Homo sapiens: one gene and its partners. The protein of the gene in region 1 purifies or fractionates together with the protein of each later gene. This does not show direct contact. Each region holds a gene or a part of one and is shown in the gene's direction. Other genes may lie near its edges.

Region 1 (7,005 bases):
AGGGATGACAAGATAGAGCAGGATGGCCAAGTATGCCCCGGCCTGTGTCTGGAGAAGCAAGGCACCTCCTGTGTACAATGGGGACCCTAATTCCCCACTCAACTTGTGGGGGTGAAGAGCACAGGCTTTGGAATCAGATCAACCTGAGTTTAAATCCCAGCTGGGCTGTTTTCCAGCTGTGTGACTTACGGCAAGTCTTTGAGCCCTTTTCCCCCTCTTTGAGCCTGCTTCCTCAGCTGTCAGAGATAAGGACCTTCCTTGCAGTGCTGTTGTGATGATTAAATGAAATCACAGATGTAAAGAGTGCTTGGTACAACAGGAGGCACAGGGTAAATGCTTGGGTAATGGAACTACTGTCATTATCACCCATCTGGCTGCATGTTACAAGGTCAATGAGATAATGGATACAAAATGTAAACTAGATGAACATAAAGGCTTATTATATAGACCAGTGTGTCCTGAAGAAAACTGGTGTCCTAAAGTGTGTCCTGCAGAAAACTAGTTCCCTGGAATGTTAATAGCTGTTTCTAAATAAAGGTTTTGCAGGCAATATGTTTTGAGAATGCAGAGTTAAATGAGAATACAATAAGTTTCTTTATTGTTAAAGTATTTAATCCCTAATAGTGATATACACTGTGAATCTTCAAGAGGACAGAGTAAGCAAACCTAACTGACCAGGAGTGGCTAGAGTATTGTCAGTTCCACAGAACAAATGTGAGAGAAAGATCTGGATTTGGTGTTAGGGTGCCTTTAACATCTAACACTGGTTAACTCTCCTTTTAAACCTGTTGGCTTGGCATTATAGGTTAATCCATATTCAGGTTCTCAGACCTGGGAGGCGGGGAACTTCGTGATCATCTTGTTCAGTGTTTTCCAAACCTCAGTCATTCCAATACCTCCCTGATTCTTGTCCTATCTAAAAATGCCACTTGTGTCCTTTTCTTCTTAACATTTTTCTTTAAATGAACCTATTTTTTTTTCTTTATCTTTTTTTTTTTCTTTTTTGAGACAGAGTCTTGCTCTGTTGCCCAGGCTGGAGTGCAGTGGTGCAATCTCAGCTCACTGCAACCTCCACCTCCTAGGTTCAAGCAATCCTCCCGCCTCAGCCTCCTGAGTAGCTAGGATTACAGGTGCCCACCACCATGCCTGGCTAACTTTTGCATTTTCAGTAGAGATGGGGTTTCACTGTTGGCCAGGCTGGTCTTGAACTCCTGACCTCAAGTGATCTGCCGCCTCAGCCTCCCAAAGTGTTGGGATTACAGGTGTGAGCCACTACGCCCAGCCGAACCTATTTTTTTTCTTAAATAAGTTTATCGAGACGGAGTCTTGCTCTGTCGCCTAGGCTGGAGTGCAGTGGCGTGATCATAGCTCACTGCAGCCTTGAACTCGTGGGCTCACATGATTCTCTGCCTCAGCCTCCTGAGTAGCTGGGACCACAAGTGCCCAACTAATTCTTTTTCTTTTTCTTTTTCTTTTTTTTAGAGACAGGGTCTTGCCATGTTGCCCAGGCTGGTCTCGAACTCCTGGCCTTAAGCTGTTCTCCTGCCTCAGCCTCCCAAAGTACTGGGATTACAGGTATGAGCCACTGTGCCCATCCTTTAAGTAATTTTAAAAGACAACTTCATAGCACTACCGTACGTGGAAAGTCTCACTTGCCACCGAGAGAAGCTAGCCATAAAAATAAAAGGTGAGGCACGGTGGCTCACACCTGTAATCCCCGCACTTTGGGAGGCTGAGGTGGGCAGATCACCTGAGGTCAGGAGTTCAAGACCAGCCTGGCCAACACGGTGAAACCCCGACACTACTAAAAATACAAAAATTAGCCGGATGTGGTGGTAGGCGCCTGTAATCCCAGCTACTCGGGAGATTGAGGCAGGAGAATTGCTTGAACCCAGGAGGCAGAGGTTGCAGTGAGCGGAGATTGTGCCACTGCATGCCAGCCTGGGCGACAGGGCGAGACTAAATAAATAAATAAAGTAAATAAGTAAGTAGTGAAAATGAAACGTCATTAAATCTTGCCTAGATGTTGTTGCCTGAAGGAGGCCCTGACCTGAGATCCACTTTCTGACTCTTTTCTAAAAATGGAGATGAGAAGTGTTAGAGAAGTACTTTTTTTTTTTTTTTTTGAGAGAGAGTTTCACTCTTGGTGCCCAGGCTCGAGTGCCATGAGCAATCTCGGCTCACCACAACCTCCACCTCCCAGGTTCAAGCAATTCTCCTGCCTCAGCCTCCCAAGTAGCTGGGATTACAGGCATGTGCCACCACGCCTGGCTAATTTTGCATTTTTAGTAGAGACAGGGTTTCTCCATGTTGGTCAGCCTGGTCTCGAACTCTCAACCTCAGGTGATCCACCTGCCTCAGCCTCCCAAAGTGCTGAGATTACAGGTGTGTGTGTGAGCCACTGCAACCTGCCCAAGAAGTCCTTTTTTTAAAACCAAACTGAGAGCTGGCCAGGCGCGGTGGCTCACACCTATAATCCCAGCACTCTGGGAGGCAAAGGCGGGCGGATCACAAGGTCAGGAGATCGAGACCATCCTGGCTAACACAGTGAAACCCCGTCTCTACTAAAAAATACAAAAAATTAGCCGGGCGTAGTGGCAGGCGCCTGTAGTCCCAGCTACTCGGGAGGCTGAGGCAGGAGAATGGAGTGAACCCAGGAGGCGGAGCTTGCAGTGAGCCGAGATCGTGCCACTGTACTCCAGCACTCCAGCCTGGGCAACAGAGCGAGACTCCGTCTCAAAAAAAATAAAAAAATAAAAAAACCCCAACAAAACCAAACTGAGAGCTTCTCAATTTGTAGTCAGAAAGATTAAAAAACAATTAGGCTGGGTGTGGTGCTCATGCCTGTAATCTTAGCACTTTGGGAAGCCTAGCTAGGAAGATTGTTCAAGGCCAGGAGTTCAAGGCCAGCCCTAGCAACATAGTGAGACCCCCCCTCATCTCCATACAAAAAAAAAAAAAAAAATTTTTTTAAATAGCTGAGTGTGGTGGTGCATGCCTATAGTCCTAGCTACTTGGGAGGCTGAGGCAGGAGGAATGCTTCAGCCCAGGAGGTTGAAGCTGCAGTAAGCTATGATTGTACCAGTGTACTCCAACCTGGCCAACAGTGAGACCCTGTCTCAAAAAATAATAATTAAAAGGGGACCAACCTCCTGATACAGTGATATTTACTCTAGTGCACACCACCTAAAAACCTCAGGTACCAATACTTGTACATGTCTCATTTTTGGACAAACACTGACTTGACCGAGCACTTCCTTCACTAGAAACAGAAGTGGACCCAGAGGGGGACTCCCTTGCCTGGGTCACACAGAGAAGGAGTAGCTGACCTGGGGTTAGAACTTGAGTCCTAGGCCAGTATACTTTTCACAGTTATGGCAGTTGTGGCTATCTACAGACCTGTCCTCTGGGTCTAGTTTGGAAAAGCCTGACCAGGGATGTGGAGGCCAGGTGTCCAAAGTGGAACAAGCTCCAAGCTGGTCCTAAAGGAGCCCCAAGAGATTGGCTGGGGTTTCAGCTTATGTCTGGTTTTCCAGAGGGGGCTGTCAGAAGAACTAATGCTCTATGGGAAGGGAGTACAAAAAAAGGGGCAGCAGCCCCGGGCACTGAAGCTCATCTCTGTCTTTCTCTCTTCTTGCTGCCTTGGGCCTGGGTCATTTCAGACAAACCTCAGGTAAGATGGGACTGGGCTTCCCCGCCACTGCGCAGCAGCTCCCGCCCTCCTGGGTGCTGTCCCAGGGGTGAAAGGAAGAGGTGGGGAGGTACAGCTGGGAGTGTGGGGGATGGGGAAGGATGGGGAGGGAACGGGCCCGTGGACAACTTGCATTTGCCCTGACACCCACCCTCCCTGCAGCTCTACACCCTCGCCGTGATCGGCCCAGGACCGCCAGATTGCCAGCCAGCCCAGATCTCTCGCCGTTACTCGGACTTTGAGCGGCTGCACCGAAACCTGCAGCGGCAATTCCGGGGCCCAATGGCTGCCATCTCCTTCCCCCGTAAGCGGCTGCGCCGGAATTTTACTGCAGAGACCATTGCCCGCCGTAGCCGGGCCTTTGAGCAGTTTTTGGGTCACCTGCAGGCAGTGCCTGAGCTGCGCCATGCCCCGGACCTGCAGGACTTCTTCGTGCTGCCGGAGCTGCGGCGGGCACAGAGCCTCACCTGTACTGGCCTCTATCGTGAGGCTCTGGCACTCTGGGCCAATGCCTGGCAGCTGCAAGCCCAGCTGGGCACCCCCTCTGGCCCAGACCGCCCCCTGCTGACCCTGGCTGGGCTGGCCGTGTGCCACCAGGAGCTGGAAGACCCTGGAGAGGCCCGGGCATGCTGTGAGAAGGCCCTGCAGCTGCTTGGGGACAAGAGCCTCCACCCTTTGCTGGCACCCTTTCTGGAGGCCCATGTCCGGCTCTCCTGGCGCCTGGGCCTGGACAAACGTCAATCAGAGGCTCGGCTCCAAGCCCTGCAGGAGGCAGGCCTTACCCCCACACCACCCCCCAGTCTCAAAGAATTGCTCATCAAGGAGGTGCTGGACTAACCCTTGCCTAGATTTAAGGCCACTGTGAGGAGAGGGGTTGCCCCAGAAGGCAGGGGAAGGACCTGATGAGAACAGAATAGCTGGGAGGCTGCAGAGGGTGCTGGGAGCCCCTAGAAGTTCCAAAAGAGAATGTGAAGCAGATCAAGGAAACTTCTGTTGAGCTAGGCTCAGGGTGAGCTTTGGCTGGGGTTGCCCTTGTGTAGTACAGGGAAGTCTGACACAGCCTCTCCAGCCTATAAACAGCCGGGGGGCTGTGGCACAGGTTGGGGCAATGTTCCCTTGTTGGTGGGCCCCCAAGCTGGCAAGGCCTCTTGGCTGAAGGCCAGGGACTCTGCCCCTGGAGTCCTGGAGTTAAGGGATGAAGGCAAGGCTGCAGGTCTGGCCCAGGGGAATTAAAAGCCAGCCACTCCAGTGGTATCAGTCTCTTTATTGGATGTGAGGGCCAAAAGGGACTGTAACTCCTGTCTCAGGAATGGGGATAGATGGGAGGTTCTTGAAGCCCCAGGCGAAGCTGGTACCTCTGGCTACAGCTTGCTCTCTGAGACCTGGGGCTTCACTCGGATCACGCCCTCCTGGGCACAGGTCACAGCTAGGACTCCATCCTGACGCCACAGCCGCCCATGGACCAGCCCCCGAGAGCCACCTGTGGGTGAGGTGAAGGGTGATGATGGCCTGCTTCAGAACAGCCAAATACACTTTTTTTTTTTTTCCTGAAACAGAGTCTCACTAAGTTGCCAGGCTGGTCTCAAGCGCCTGGGTTCAAGGGATCCTCCCGCCTCAGCCTCCTGAGCAGCTGGGATTACAGGCGCACATCACCATGCCCAACCTCCAAGTGGACTTCTTGCAAAGGGTCTGGCCCAGGGCAGGGCTGCCCCACACAAGGGTGCACTGAGTGTCGTGGCTGCTCCAAATGCCCCTTCATGAGCTTATTATGGACCGTCATTGAGGGGTAACTCCTCCCACAGGAACCCCAGTTGACAGTTTAAAAGCACTTTCACACCTCTCCTCGCTTCCTCAAAAAGATCACAGAGGGAGGAGCTCTGAGAACAGTCTCCTTCAACAGCTCGGCCAAGCAGAACTGCTGTACCTCTGACCACTTGTGTTAGGAAAACTATCGGCTCCCTGTATAATAAATCAAGCCAGGTCCTCCAAGTGGTAATTCATGAAAAATATCCCCACTACCACCACCAAGGGGAAGAAAGGACTCAGAAGAGAGGACTTGAGGCCATGAGGTCTGGCCTCTTCCCTCCCCATCTGGAGACTCTTTCTCCCTTGCTGGCTTTGGGCCCAAGTTTGATGTTTATGAGGATGATTGCTGGTTTCCCTTACACATAGCAGAGCTCACTCAGTTCTCACAGTAGCCAAATGAAGCAGTTATGTGTTGTCCAGTTTTCCAGACCAGGACTGAAATCCAGAGAGGGTCAGGAATTTGGCCCCATGATGAAGCCAAATCTGAACCCATGTCCTCACTTCAAGGTTATCAATCTTGGATTGTGATGCTATTGGTACTTGAGAATACCCCTTATCTGAGTATAAAGAATCCTTGAGTTTTGTCCTTGGTTTATCAAGCAAAGCTTTTCTTCATTTGAAATGTACTCCCTTGGAAAGGAGGTCAGGGTTCTGAAGCTAGACATTGATGAACGAGTCTTGTTTCTCTCCCCTGCAAGGAAGGTCCAAGCAGGCCCTTAGGGACCACTGAATGCCCCGATCCCAATCAGGTTAATCAGAATCACTTAGAGAACTTAAAAATACAGTTTCCTGGACCTTATCCAAGACCTACTGAGTGAGAATCTTGAGGGTGGAATCAGAATCTATTTTGAAAAGGCATCCCCAAATGGCAGTCTGATGGACTGCGGGTTTGGATACCACTGCTGTAATGTAACCCTCTTTGTTTAGATGAGGAAACTGAGGTTCAGATGGAAGATATGATTTGCCTATTGTAATACAAAGAATCTGAACTGGTTTTGGGACTAGAACTGGGTCCCTGGGAGAAGGTGAATCACATTTCCAGCACATTCTAGAAATTTAGAGCAGAGCAGGTGTCCCGGCCTCACCCTCTCATTTTGAAGATGAAGATGCCAAAGCCTGGGAGGGAAGGAAAGGAAGTGACCTGTGCAGCGCCACACAGGAAGTCGGGAAATCAGCATCACCCAAGAAAGCAGGCTCCTGCCACTCAAGGTCAGTGCCCTTGTCCCACACGGCCCCACACTCACCGGCCCAGGGGCTCTCGCATTCATAGAGCATCCAGTGGTCAGCTCGGAAGGGGGCGTGGAACCACATGGAATGGTCCAGTGAGACCATGAAGTGCACCTTGTGCTGCCACTGGTGAGGCAGCAGTGCAGTGCCCAAGAAGGCATAGTCGGAGATATAGGCGGCCACGCAGCAGTGCATCTTCATGTCGCCCTCGCCTGCAACAGGTCCCCATCAGCCCTGGGCTCCTGGGCTTTCCAGCTCAGGACCTGCACGGAGGTAGGGGG
Region 2 (7,027 bases), on another chromosome or scaffold:
GGCAGGATCATGGCTCACTGCAGCCTTGACCTCCTGGGCTCTATTAAGATGTGAATAAACTAAAAGTAGGTTAAAAGATGAACAGATGGAATTAAACAAATCTGTTTATAAAGCATAATAAACATAGGGACATAAAAACGATTAAGAGAATGAAAGGCTTAAATGTCCAAAGAGAGCATTAGTATTGATGCTAAAGACAAGGATAACAAGATAAGGATATGAGGGAGAAAAAAATCCTGGAAAAATAGCTTTCCAAAACTAATGCAAGAAGAAATGGAGAACCCAAAACAGTCCTAGAACACCTAAATAACTTGAATCAGTCAATCATCTAGGCCCAGATGATTTCACTGGAGTGTTCTGTATAATTCAAGGGAGAAAATATCCAACTTTTTTCACGCATTCTTCTGGGAAACAACATACTTCCCTCGGTTTTCTCATCCCAAAGTCTGAAATATTTTTTTCTCCTACACGATATTTACCTTTCATATTTAGATCTGCAATCCATCTGGAATTGATTTTGTGTGTGGTGTGAGGGAATACACTTTAAACAAACTTGGCTCATCAGTCCAAGCTTTAATGCTTGGAATCTTTTCTGAATGTACACCTTTTTACTAAACACTGCTTCCCTCTTGTAGACCATTTAAGATATTTTATCTTAAGTGAACAAATTATGTAATACTGAGAAATTTAACAAAGAAAAATCTTTTATGATATAGCTTGGGTTAAACAATACTGTTGGAGAAAAGCAGCAGTCCAGGTATATCCAGATGAATAAAGGACAATTAAGGGAGAGGCGGTTTCTTAGGGGTAACCTGCAGTTTTCTCTGATTTTTCAGATTTTACGGATGTTGAATAAAAATCAGTGACCATTTAAAAAATGGTTTAGTTGTTGGATCAAAGTGCTGTAACAAACAAAAGCTTTTTATAAGACATGGCAGCTTTAGGGAGGGTGAGAGTAGTAAGAAGGAAATCTGTTAGAAAATAGAAAATTTTGCTGAGAAAAGAATGATTTTTCAGGACTGGAAATCCTATTACTGTGCTTTACTCAGATTTTATAAACTAAAACATAATTTTTAGTAAAGGATTGGGGCAGTTGTAAAGATAGTCATACCTCAGCTTAACTTTCCCCAAACTCATGACTTATTTGACTACATCATTATGCAGCATTATTGCAATATCAATAATTTACATTGAAGGAATTTACAACCCGTTGCCAAAAAACCTTTTAGTGTAATGTTTCAGAGTAGAAATGCTTCCTGCTAAAGAATAAAGCTTCTCGTTACATTCCTCCCAGCAGTTTCAAAAAGGTTTCATGGCTGGGCTTGGTGGCTCATGTCTAATCCCAGCACTCTGAGAGACCAAGGAGTTTGAGAGCCCAGTCTGGGCAACATAGTGAAATCCTGACTCTACAAAAAAAATTGAAAAATTATCTGTGCGTGCTGGTCCATCCTGGTGCGTGTCTGCATCCCAGCCACTCGGGAAGCTGAGGTGGGAGGATTTTTTTGAGCCATTGGGGGATCGAGGCTGCAGCGAAATGAGATTGCACCAGTGCGCTCCATCTGGTGGCAGAGTGAAACCCTCTCAACAACAACGAAAATATTTCAACTGTTGTTTACAAACCATGTATCTTTAAGAAGCACATGTTGAAAGTAGCAGAAAACTGAGAGGAGTATCCCGATTTGGGGTAAAAATTTGAGATAGAGAAACAATAATGTGATGATAATAGGTTCATATCTTTGAACAAAAGGGAGGAGGCTTATTTCTCAGGTTATCTGAATTCACTGCCGCAGGAAGGCACCCTCAGAATCTAACTTCTGGTCAGTCTAGCTTTACTCAAGAATGATCTGGTTTTAGGATGCCTTTTACCTAAAGACTGCTTACTACCTGGGGTAGAGGCACCCTGATGAATGTACTGTAATGAGAGCCTCTAAAACAGACCTAAAAATATGAGGTAAGAGCAGAATTGAGAAGCTGCAGTGACTTTGGATAAATTACCTGAACTCTGAAACCAGCTGGTTTTACATTAGGAAGTAATGAGTAATCTAATGACCTGGAAGCTTTTCAAATAAAAATTTGCAGGCATCATCCTCAGAAAGTGTCTGACCTAACTGGGTATGGGAATAGCATCTATGTATTGAGTTTTCAGGTGATTAGAGCATAACCCTGCACTAATGGGATCCTTCTGTATTTAAGTTCTTGGTCTTTTTTTTTTTTGGACAGTCTCAGTCACCCAGGTTCGAGTGCAGTGGTGCCATCTCAGCTCACTGCAACCTCCGCCTCCCAGGTTCAAATGATTCTCCTGCCTCAGCCTCCCTAATAGTGGGTACTACAGGTATGCACCACGATGCCTGGCTAATTTTTGTATTTTTAGTAAAAGACAGGGTTTCGCCATGTTGGCTAGGCTGGTCTTGAACTCCTGACTTCAAGTGATTGAGCCATCGCCCCTGGTCCCTTTGTCCATTTTTTAATCACTTTTTGTTGAGTTGTGTGTAGGTGTGTCTTTTGCTTTGGATATTGACCCCTTATGAGGTGACTTGCAAGTATTTTATTCTGTAGGTTGTCTTTTCACTCGTTTCTTTTGATGTATAGAAATGTTTACATTTTAGGTTTTCAAGTTCCATTTGTCTGTTTTTGATTTTATTGTATGTCATATCCAAGAAATCATTGCCAAATGTAATGCCCTGAAGCATTTACCCTATGTATTCTTCTAGGAGTTTTATTCGCTGTTAATGTTTAGGTTGTTGATCCATTTTGAGTTAATTTTTGTTTATGATGTAAGGTAAAAGTCCAACTTAATTTTGTTTGCATGTGGACATCCATTTTTTCCCAGCACTATTTGTGGAAGCGATGTTTTTCCCTGTTATGTAGGCTTGGGACTCTTGTTCAAGATAGTTGAGCTCAGTCATTTACTTCTTTTTTTGAGACACGCTTGTCTTGCTCTGTCTCCCAGGCTGAAGTGCAGTGGTGTGATTTTTGGTGCACTGTAGCCTCCGCCTCCTGGGTTCAAGTGATTCTCCTGCCTCAGCCTCACGAGTAGCTGGGACTACAAGCCTGCGCCACCACACCTGGCTAATTTTGGTATTTTTACTAGAGGCGGGTTTCGCTATGTTGGTCAGGCTGGTCTTGAACTCCTGACCTCAAGTGATCCGCCTGCCTCGGGCTCCCAAAATGCATTTAATCAGGCGACATAGAGAAGTCTTGTTATAATATAATTATCTTGTCCCTGTAGACATTTCTAAATTCTATTTTTATTAGACCTCAGCCTCTAAGAAAATGTTTTAAATATAAAATGTGGCATGCCACTAAAGTGTTGTTTTTCAGACATACAATTTGTGTGCTGTTATTAATATAGAACATCTATTTTTCTTTGGGATCATTTATCATGATCTCTGATTATATTTAATATTTTAGTATCTAGTCTTTAAGTGAAATTAGGGTATCTCAACCTCAGCATTCTTGACATTTTGATTCAGATAATTCACTGTTGTCAATGACTATCCTGTTAATTATACCGTGTGTAGCAGTGTCCCTGGCCTCTATCCACTGCATGCTGGCAACACCACCACCACCCCAGTTGTGATAAAAAATGTCTCCAAATGTTGCCACATGTCTTCTGGGTGGCAAAATTACTACAAGTTGAGAACCACTGAGTTAGATCAGAGAGGTGGCATTTAAGATGAGAAAAAGGAATTCAAATCAGGAAATACTCAATCTACATATTTCTTTGTGTTTTATAACCACCTAAGAATTGTGTGCTTCGGGCCAGGCATGGTGGTGCATGCCTGTAATCCCAAATCCCAGCACTTTGGGAGGCCGAGGCGGGTGGATTGCTTGAGGTCAGGAGTTCGAGACCAGCCTGGCCAGCATGGTGAAACACCTTCTCTACTAAAAATACAAAAAAAAAATTAGCCTGACATGGTGGCAGATGCCTGTAATCAGTCCCAACTACTCGGGAGGCTGGGGCAGGAGACTTGCTTGAACCTGGGAGGCGGAGTTTGCAGTGAGCTGATAGCATACCACTGCACTCCAGCCTAGGTGACAGAACAAGACTGCATCTCAAAAAAAAAAAAAATTGTGTGCTTGAATAGCTTTATAATAATTTCTAATGACTAGATCAGTATTACGTGAGCTGTAATGTGAACAAATCCCAAAATCATCTTGCTATCTTGCTTCTCTTGATTCTGCTTTATATCCATCAATTTGATTTATTGACTCTTTAAATAGCAAGGATTGCCAAATAGATCAGTTTTATAAATAGTTTATAATAGACTAGTGCTTCAAAGTCTCAGTTTGTAGTGTACTTGGGAGTGAAGCAGAGACAAGACCACTATCACTACTGAGCCTGATAAAACATTCTAGCTTAATACTATCTTTTCTATTTTTGACACACAGTCTCACTCTGTCGCCCAGGCTGGTGTGCAGTGGCACGATCTTGGCTCACTGCAACCTAATTTTAAAAATGGCTCTGTCGACTGTATAAAGCACTTTGTCTTTTCCATCATTAATTTGATCAGAAAGCAGACCACTGAAAACCTTTCCTCCAAAACAAGAGTCAGCAAACTTTCTGTAAAGGACTAGGGAGTAAATTTTAAATTTTGCAAGGCAGACAGTCTGTTGCAATTACTCAGCTCTGCCCTTATAGGGAGAAAATAACCATAGTCAATGTATAAATGAATGGGTGTGGCTAGGTTCCAGTAGAGCTTTATTTACAAAAGCAGGCCATTTTTTCCCACAGAAATGTGATAGAAATAATTTGTGCTGAAATTTTCAGCTGTTGCAGAGTTTTTCACCTCTTTTATGTACATGTATAGCATTGTATTGACTACTTTTTTCTTTCGTCTATTTTGCCCTCTGATTTATTTTTCTTGAGCTTAGTAGCTCTGGTAAATGCCTTTATCATCACTAGGTTGATAGACAGTTTAACTGTTTGTCCTAGGTTGCTTAAAGTAATTGCTTTCTTTTGATACTATGATTGAAAAATTCTGATTACCGGAGCATTACTATTAGTTGAGGAAAGGTTTGAATGGAGAATTTTATTAACTGATGATGAGTGAGTATAAGAGCATTTTGAAGCCAATGGGTTGGCACGTGCCTATAATCCTAGCACTTTGGGAAGCTGAGATGGGAGGATCTCATTAGCCCAGGAGTTTGAGACCAACCTGGGCAACATAGGGAGACCTCATCTCTACAAAACAATTAAAAATATATTAGTAAGGTGTAGTGATACATGCCCTGTGGTCCCAGCTACTTGGGAGGCTGAGGTGGGAGGATCTCTTTGAGCATGGGAGGCCAAGGCTGCAGTGAGCTGTGATTGTGCCATTGTTCTCCAGCCTGGGTGACAGTGAGACTGGCTCAGAAAACAAAAGGTTATTTCTCTGCCATTACAGAAGAAGCATGCTACACTGTCTTCTCTTATTAAAATGCAATTAATAAACCCTGGACAGAATGCATTGTTGAGCAGCTATCCAAGGACTCTGAGAAGTAAATTTTAGCAGGTGAAATGGAGAAGAAAGCCAGAACTTTAAATTCCACTGAACCAGCAGTGAATTTCCTGTTTTTTTTCCCCTGTGGTATCTCCTCGCTGATTTCTCCTGGGCTTGCCAGAAACCCAGAACTGAAAAGTAGGGGCAGGCAAAAATAGTTCCAAGAAAGGCTCTCTAGTTCTCCTCTGCAAAGAAAGAATGAGAGGCCCCTTTGAATCAGAGTGGAAGAAATCTCTTTTTTGCTTTTGTTTTGTTCTATTCTGCCCCAATCCTCTTGTAGGCCTTTAGCAGCTGTGGCAGTTAGGCAGATGTCTAAAACAACGAGAGAAGGGAATCATTTTTTGTTTGTTGTTTGTTTTTGAGACAGAGTCTTGCTCTGTAGCCAGGGCTGGAGTGCAGTGACACGATCTCGGCTCACTGCAAGCTCCGCCTTCCGGGTTCATGCCATTCTCCCGCCGCAGCCACCCAAGTAGCTGGGACTACAGGTGCCCGCCACCATGCCCAGCTAATTTTTTTTTTTTTTATTTTTAGTAGAGACGGGGTTTCACCTTGTTAGCCAGGATGGTCTTGATCTCCTGACCTTGTGATCCTCCTGCCTCCCAGAGTGCTGGGATTACAGGCGTGAGCCACTGCGCCCGGCCAAAGCCCTATTTTTATAGGTAGTGGATGAAGAAGAGTCCTTCCCCTATCCCCTATGTGAGTCAGGCATTGTCAGAGAGATTATGGAAGGTTGAAGAAAGTAAACCTATAAAGTTTTATATGAACACTCCTTAGCCATTTTGCATGGATCTGACCCTAAACAGCACATCAGAGGCTTTGAAAACTAGAATACACAATAGACTGCCTCTCCAGGGCCAGCCTGGCCATTGGGTGGCAAATAAGTGGGGCAGATGCAAATAACATAGCAAAGGAGTTCATAACAAACCTGACACTGGAACCATAACACAACCTAGAAACATTGAGTAAAAACTTGAAGCCTAAACCAAACCAGATTGTCTGCTGAAAGTTTTTAAAAATCAAGACCTAGAATGATGTAACATGTCAAAATATCCAGGATGCCATCCTAAATTAGTCAACATACTCAAAACCAGGAAAATCTTAACATCTCAAAGGAAAAGACAGCAGACACCAACCTCAAGGTGACATGGACCAAGACTTTAAAGTATCTGTGCTACAAGTTGTAAGGGTGAATACTTTGTTTTAAGAGAGGGTCTTGCTCTGTTACCCTGGCTGGAGTGTAGCGGTGTGATCATGGTTCACTGCACCCTCCATCTCCTGGGCTCAAGCAAACTTCCCACATCAGCCTACCGAGTAGCTGGGACTACAGACCTGCACCACCACTCCCAGCTGCCTTTTTTCTTTTTAAGAGACTGGCTATTGCTATGTTGCCCAGGCTGGTCTTGAACTTCTGGTCTCGTGATCCTTCCTTCTTGGCCTCTGAACCACAGTGCCTGGCCACAACAGCCTTTAAAAAAAGAGAAAACAAAAATAAGAAAGGAAAAGACTGTTACACTGTTTAGTTCAGCCATGGAACGTGTTTAAAA
Region 3 (7,027 bases), on another chromosome or scaffold:
GTTCATTTCTTTCCATTCGATTTTTAATTTCATTCAGTTTGTGAGCTGTTGGAATTGTGATTTTTAATTGTCTTCTAAAGAAATGAAGGTTTAGCATAAGATCTATCTTGTTGAGTTCGGACGAGCCTCTAGTAGGGATTGGCCAGCTGTGGCCCGTAGGGCAAATCTGGCCCACCACCTGTTTTTGTACAGCCTGTTAGCTAAGAATGGTTTTTACACTTTTAAATGGTTTTAAAATAAAACAATAATATCTCGTGATATGTGAAAATTATATGGAATTCAGATTGCATTGTCCGTAAATCAAGTCTTTTTGGAACGCAACCACGTTTATTCCTTTACATGTCTATGCTACAATCACAGAGTTGGGTGGTTGTGACAGAAACTGGCCCACAAAGTCTAAAATATAAAATGTTTACTGCTGGCTCTTTACAGAAAAGTTTGCCAGCCCCTGATCTAAGTCCTTTTTGGATCAGCTGACTTGTGTTCATGCTCTCGCTCTCTCGTTTTTTCACACATATACACACGGTTTCCTAATACATTGTCAATTTCCCACCTTAGGGGATTATGCTTAATTCTGAAGTCTGATGCTACTGTACTTCAAATTTCTCTTCAGAGCAATAAGTCTAGATTTCTACGACTCCACTCTATAAAAGGCCTGCCTGGTGATTTATTACCTGGTTGTTTGGAGATAATATAATTGAAGGCTTTTGGGAAAACCTTTTTTGCTCCAAACTCAGATATGCTTCATATTGAGTAACTATTTAGGTTAGATTCTAGAATTGTAATGTTGGTTCCCTGCTTTTAAATTTTTTGACTGAAAATGTTAATTATCATTTTTGGATGAGCTGGCCTAAGAGAGTACAATATTATTCCGTATTAATAGTCCTATGCTTATTACCTATATCCCATTTTTGTAAAGTTGGGCTTTCTTTTCCTTTCTAATACTACAAAATCATCTGAGTACCAATTGAAAGTAATCTTTCAACCTTATAAAGAAAATCTTGGTGCCAGTGACACCTTTCCTAACAAATACAGCAGTCCATGACAAAGATGTTCTTTTTGTCCTTTCCATTCATAAGATTGTACTTAATGGTATTCCTTTTTTGAATTGTCAAATACTGTCACTGCAGGCAGTGTTATTTCCTGTACCTAAGACTGTTTCTGAAAGTTGGATCACTAATGATGTCTGCCAAGCAGTATGTACACAAAGTTCCTAAAGTCCTATTTAAGTTAACATTGAACACACATACTTCAGAGTGGAATATGAGGCATAATGTTCTCAGGAACTTTAATAGGAAACAGACTCTAGGCACATGTGTTTTTTCTACCCCATGGGCTGTTTAGTTCTAACTTTTCAGTTGGCATTCTGCTTGAATAAACCAGGCCTCTAATTCTTATTCTCATGCTTAGGATTTCAGATTTTTGTGCTATGGTGTAGCTTAGATTTATTTCTTACTGTAAAACACCTAACAGCAATGGGTTTCTAGATTTTTTTTTAGCCAGGTGTGGTGGCACACATGTAGTCCTAGCTACTTGGGAGGCTGACGTGGGAGGATTGCTTGAGCCCAGGAGTTTGAGGCTGCAGTGAGTTATGATTGCGCCACTGCACTGCAGCCTAGGTGACAGAGCGAGACTGTGTCTCTAAAATAAAAATAAAATAAAGATTTTTTTTTAGGTGTGGGACGCAAGTGGCCTAGTTTTTAGGAACTAACAGATAATCCCATTGCCTTTATTCTTCCAATTAAAATGATTGTAAATACTTTGAACATTAAATATGTATAGGAAGAAGGGAATCTGACTCCTAATTTTCAACTAATCAATGTGAATCATCCCGAAATTTCAGACACGTGCCTGTGCTCTGCAAGTTTTATCTGCCATCTTGGAAGGCTCAAAGCAGTTTCTTTCTGTTGCTGAAGATACCAGTGACCACAGAAGGGCTTTTACCCCCTTCTCCGTAATGATCGCTTGCAGCATTAGAGAGTTGCACAGATGTCTTTTGTTAGCTTTGGTGGCGGAGTCATCCTCACAGACCGTTACTCAGATAATTAAGGTAATGTACCAACTGTGGGTTCCAGAGCAGGCTTCTCTGTTTTAATTTTGTATACTGTTTTACATAGCTCAAAAGTAACTTGACTTAAGAATATAACTAAGTAATAGTTTTATTAAAAATACACTATTTGGAAGTCTGTACCTACTCGTCTGATCTTATCTATAATCTCTGTATGTCCCAATAAATGATTTGCTAAAAATACTTCTTTATCTTTAGTTGTACCAATGAGAATACAAGTGTTATTAAAAAAAAGGGGGGCTAATTTTTAGTTGTGTGAAAACTTTTCTTTTTTAATTAAATGCTGCAAAATTTGTTCTATGCTGTGGTTTAATCAAGCCTTTTGATGAGCTACTTTTTGTGTTTTACAGTGCCTTGCAAATTTAGTATCAAATGCACCTTATGATCGTCTAAAACTCAGCCTGCTGACCAAAGTCTGGAACCAGATAAAGCCTTATATTCGCCACAAAGGTTTGTAGTGGCTTAAAACTGATGGCTTCTTTGTATCAGTCAGATGCAGACTATTAGTAAAAATATACAGATATAGATATATGTATATATTCAAAGCATTTTTACAACTCTTAAGAGATCTCTGCTTATTCTTCTCAACTTTTCAGGGGTATAAGCTGTTGCAAGAATTGACCCCTCAAGTCCCAGTGGAAGTGAGCTAGAGGATTAATTGTAAAGTTTGCCTGTTTAATGCTCAGGGCAGTGACCAGAGTATCCCTTTAGAATTAAGATTGAGCCAGGTGCAAGCAGCCCCCCTGAGGAGTATGATTGTTTATATCCCTTACACATAGGTAGAGGATGGATGGATGGTTAGATAGACAGACAGACGGACAGATAGATATTATCTACTTTTTGGAAAGAAAAACTGGAATACAAAATTTAACTTCTTTATTGTTATTTCCTATGAAGTTCAGATAAAACCCCAGAACTTCAAATCTTTACTAAGTGCAGTCTTATTATTTCCTCCTACACATAATGTATTTGTGCTATAAACACTTGCCTTTTGTAGATTTGCCTTTCTTTTGTTTGCAAGCTTTCAGATCGGACCACATTCTGATGAGTTCAGTTTTTCAGGCAGAATTGTAACAAGGAAGGAATAGTGGATGTTTTCTGTGACATAGTGGGAAGAGCATGGGACCTGAAGTCAATCCAAGGGTCTGGATCCCACTCCCATTTTTGCCATCTCATGGCCATGACCCTCTCTGAACCCTAATTTCTTCCTAACAGCAAGAATTATAACTACATCATAAGATTTTTATGAGGCTCAAATGAGATAATGAGATGTAACTAAGTCCAGTTCACTACTTACACTAATATGTAAAAAAGGGACCCAGAAAGATAAGTCTTACCCTAAGGTTTCCCATCACATTCATGGCAGAAATAAGATGAGAACAACCCCTGCTCATTCCACTGTACCAACTTTTCATTATCTGCATCTTCAGCTGAGGAGAGTGCACCATGCCTCAAAGTTTCCTTTCAAGTATCTGACTTTATCCTCAAGTAACTTTTTTTCATTAAAATGTTCAAACCCTGAAATTCTTAGGTATGAGCCTAACAAAATATGTACAAGATCTATATGAAGAAAACTGTGAAACTCTGATCAAATAAAGAACTAAATGAATGGACAGAGATTCCATATTCCTGGATAGGAAGGCTCAATATTGTGAAGATGTTACTTCTTCCCAACTTGATCTATAGATTCAGTGCAGTCTCAATCAAAATTCCAGCAAGTTATTTTGCAGATATCAATGAACTGATTCTGAAATATATATGGATATGCAAAAGACCTGGAATAGCCAACACAATATTGATAGAGAAGAACAAAACTGAAGGACTGACATTCCCTGACCTCAAAATCTACTATAAAACTACAGTAATTAAGACAGTGTGATACTGGCCAAGGAAGAGACAAACAGATCAATGGAACAGAATAGAGAGCCCAGAAATAGACCCACATAAATATAGTCAACTGATCTACAACAAAGGAGCAGATACTTTTCAACAATTGGTGCTGGAACAGCTGGACATCACATGCAAAAAAAAAAATGAGTCTAGACACAGACCTTTTAGCTTTTTAAAAATATTTCTTGTTAAAATCCGGGGTTCATTCAAGGTACATGCATTGCATTTAGTTATTATGTCACTGTAGTCTTTTTAAATGTAGAGTCCCCCCACCCATCTTTTTTATATCAAACTGACTTAGGAAAGAATCCAACCCAATTGTCTTATAGAATGTGAACTCTAAGCTCTGTCACCAAAGATAACAAAATAAATCACATTCTCAATTTGTCAGATTGTTTCTTTATGGTGTTAACTTACTCTCCTGTCCCATGTATTTCCAAACTGGAAATGAGGTCTAGAAGTTTGATTAGATTCAGGTTACACAAGGAACTACTAATTTTTAATTGCCTGCTGGGATAACTACCATCTTTACAGTAGTTGTTGCCATGATGATAAGTTCTTACTGCTTCCTTTGACAGATGTTAATGTTCGTGTGTCAAGTCTCACACTCTTGGGAGCTATAGTGTCCACCCACGCACCTTTACCTGAAGTCCAACTACTTCTGCAACAGCCATGTTCTTCTGGACTCGGTAATAGCAATTCAGCAACCCCTCACCTCAGCCCTCCTGATTGGTGGAAGAAAGCCCCTGCAGGACCCTCTCTGGAAGAAACGTCAGTTAGCTCACCTAAGGGGTCTTCAGAGCCCTGCTGGCTCATTCGACTCTGCATTTCCATTGTCGTACTGCCCAAGGAGGATTCCTGTTCAGGTAGCGATGCTGGCTCTGCAGCAGGAAGCACCTACGAACCATCCCCCATGCGACTGGAGGCCTTACAGGTAGGAGATTTCATTTCCTCATCTCTGAAATGGAAGTAACCATTCCTCCTTCAGAGTGACTGTGAGGAGCGAGCAGGTAAAACCAAGCCATATGTCAATTGTGTTCGTGGGAATTGTATTTTAGGTATGGGTGGTGTATTGTTTTGTTGTTGTTTTGTTTTGGGGAGGTGTTCTTTGGTTGTAAAATAGCAGATTCATTCCTTTTTGTTCTTTGATTGCAAATTATTTTAGTCCCTTCAGGTATTATATGACAAGTGGATGTAATAGATTGTAGAATAATTCTGAGTGAAATTGTACAGTTAATTTTTGATTTTTGCAACTTAAATGTTTAATTCTCTATAAGCTTTTCCTTGGTCTTGTACCTGCTTAGAGTAACAAAATAATTGTTCCTTCAAAGGAAGAAAACAATCCTAGATAAAAGAGTTTACTTTTTCTATACAAATATGATCTGAGACTAGGCCTGGTCCTGAGGTCTGCTGCTGATTAACTGGGCAGCATGAAGCATGTCCTTTCATCTTGTCAGGCTTAGGTTCTTTAGTTGTAAAATTCAGTTAATACCTACTTTAAAGAATAGTTCCAAGACTTAAATGAGATTCTGTTAATGAAAAGCAATCATATACTAAAGCACCATAAAACTATGATACAGTTTATTGATGTTAGTCACAAAATAAAGATTATGGTTCTTAATTTCATTCAACAGATTTCAGCCCCTGTTAAATGTAAGCGATTTCTGAAATATTGTAACACTTTTCTGGATATTGCAGCCTTGCACTCAGGTCTTAGAGGGTTAATTCCATGCTCTCTTTGCAGGTATTGACTCTTCTGGCAAGGGGCTACTTTTCAATGACTCAAGCCTACTTGATGGAGCTTGGAGAGGTGATTTGCAAGTGCATGGGGGAAGCAGATCCATCCATTCAGCTTCATGGAGCAAAGGTAATTTTCATCAAAACCACAATGCTTTTTCCTTCTCTTCACTTTATATCCTTCCTTTTCTTCACTTTATATCCTTCCTTTTCTTCACTTTATATTCTTCTGCCACATGTCCTTCAATTCTGAGATTTCTTAAAGAGATTTCAGGTAAGGAGGACATGCATTCTTCTGTTTTCGGCTCTTACATATAAACCCCACGCATTGACTCAGTAACAAATTAATAAGATATAGCTGTTGATTTCAGTCCTTGAAAGAATGCCTCTGTTAACAGTGACTGAAAAAAGAAAGAAAATTAGTTGCAAATTATGTTTCCCCTTGATTTGAGGCGATCTCCAAACTCAAGTGAAGGTGTTACTAAAGTGAAGGTGTTACTAGAGTGAAGGTGTCACTCGAGTGAAGGTGTTACTCGAGTGGAGGTGTTACTAGAGTGAAGGTGTTACTAGAGTGAAGGTGTTACTCAAGTGAAGTCATTCATTAGTTCTGATGCTCCACTTCGGTAATTCTTTTTCTTGGCAGCTTCTGGAAGAACTGGGCACAGGCTTAATACAGCAGTATAAACCAGACTCCACTGCAGCACCTGATCAGAGAGCACCAGTCTTCTTGGTAAATAAATGTCAATTCATAGTTTTCTTTTATTAATGCTTCAGTTGCAGTTTTATTTTGAAGCTCAGTGATAAATGGAGTAGATGATATGGTTTCTTCCAGTGTCAAAAATTATGTTTTATAATCCAGGAAAACATGAAACTAGTATAAATTGGTTTTATTTTACATTTCAGTTTATTTGCAGTTTAGTTTGTGGTAGGCTTATGTATAACATATAACCAGCAATAGTAAAACTAATATTTCTTTTGCATAAAACCTAGTTTTTTATGCAAAAGAGGTTTATCTGGCTCACAGTTCTGCAGGCTGTACAAAAAGCATGGTGCCAGCATCTACCTCTGAGGAAGCCCCAGGAAGCTTTAAATCCTGGTGGAAGGCAAAGGGGGAGCAGGCATGTCATATGGCAAGAGAGTAAGCAAGAGGGAGATGCCAGGCTCTTTTAAACAACCAGCTCTCGTATGAGCTCATAGAGTGAGAGTTCACTCATTACCACAAGGACAGCACCAAGCCATTCAAGAGGGATCCACCCCCATGACCCAAACACTTCCTATTAGGCCCACCTCCAGTGTTAGAGGTCACATTTCAGCATGAGGTTTGAGGAGGCA

Evidence for each region.
Region 2: the proteins of SNX21 (region 1) and AMD1 purify together in Homo sapiens (affinity purification with mass spectrometry; 2 studies listed by BioGRID and IntAct, with this or other methods). This does not show direct contact.
Region 3: the proteins of SNX21 (region 1) and HEATR6 purify together in Homo sapiens (co-immunoprecipitation; 3 studies listed by BioGRID and IntAct, with this or other methods). This does not show direct contact.

The regions. Positions count from the first base shown.
Region 1 is NC_000020.11:45,836,786-45,843,790, forward strand, and holds the end of SNX21 (sorting nexin-21), read left to right. Parts: exon of another isoform or gene 1-550; intron 551-1,482; coding exon of another isoform or gene 1,483-1,606; exon of another isoform or gene 1,607-1,747; intron 1,748-2,694; exon of another isoform or gene 2,695-3,520; coding exon of another isoform or gene 3,521-3,673; intron 3,674-3,853; coding exon 3,854-4,528; 3' UTR 4,529-5,052; coding exon of another isoform or gene 5,053-5,171; 3' UTR 5,172-5,247; coding exon of another isoform or gene 5,248-5,258; 3' UTR 5,259-6,491; downstream 6,492-7,005. Other genes in the region: ACOT8 (acyl-coenzyme A thioesterase 8), read right to left, coding at 5,053-5,171, 6,742-6,936. UniProt on the Homo sapiens protein: Binds to membranes enriched in phosphatidylinositol 3-phosphate (PtdIns(P3)) and phosphatidylinositol 4,5-bisphosphate. May be involved in several stages of intracellular trafficking.
Region 2 is NC_000006.12:110,877,767-110,884,793, forward strand, and holds part of AMD1 (S-adenosylmethionine decarboxylase proenzyme), read left to right. Parts: intron 1-7,027.
Region 3 is NC_000017.11:60,054,913-60,061,939, reverse strand, and holds part of HEATR6 (HEAT repeat-containing protein 6), read left to right. Parts: intron 1-1,843; coding exon 1,844-2,050; intron 2,051-2,418; coding exon 2,419-2,518; intron 2,519-4,536; coding exon 4,537-4,892; intron 4,893-5,702; coding exon 5,703-5,825; intron 5,826-6,338; coding exon 6,339-6,425; intron 6,426-7,027. UniProt on the Homo sapiens protein: Amplification-dependent oncogene.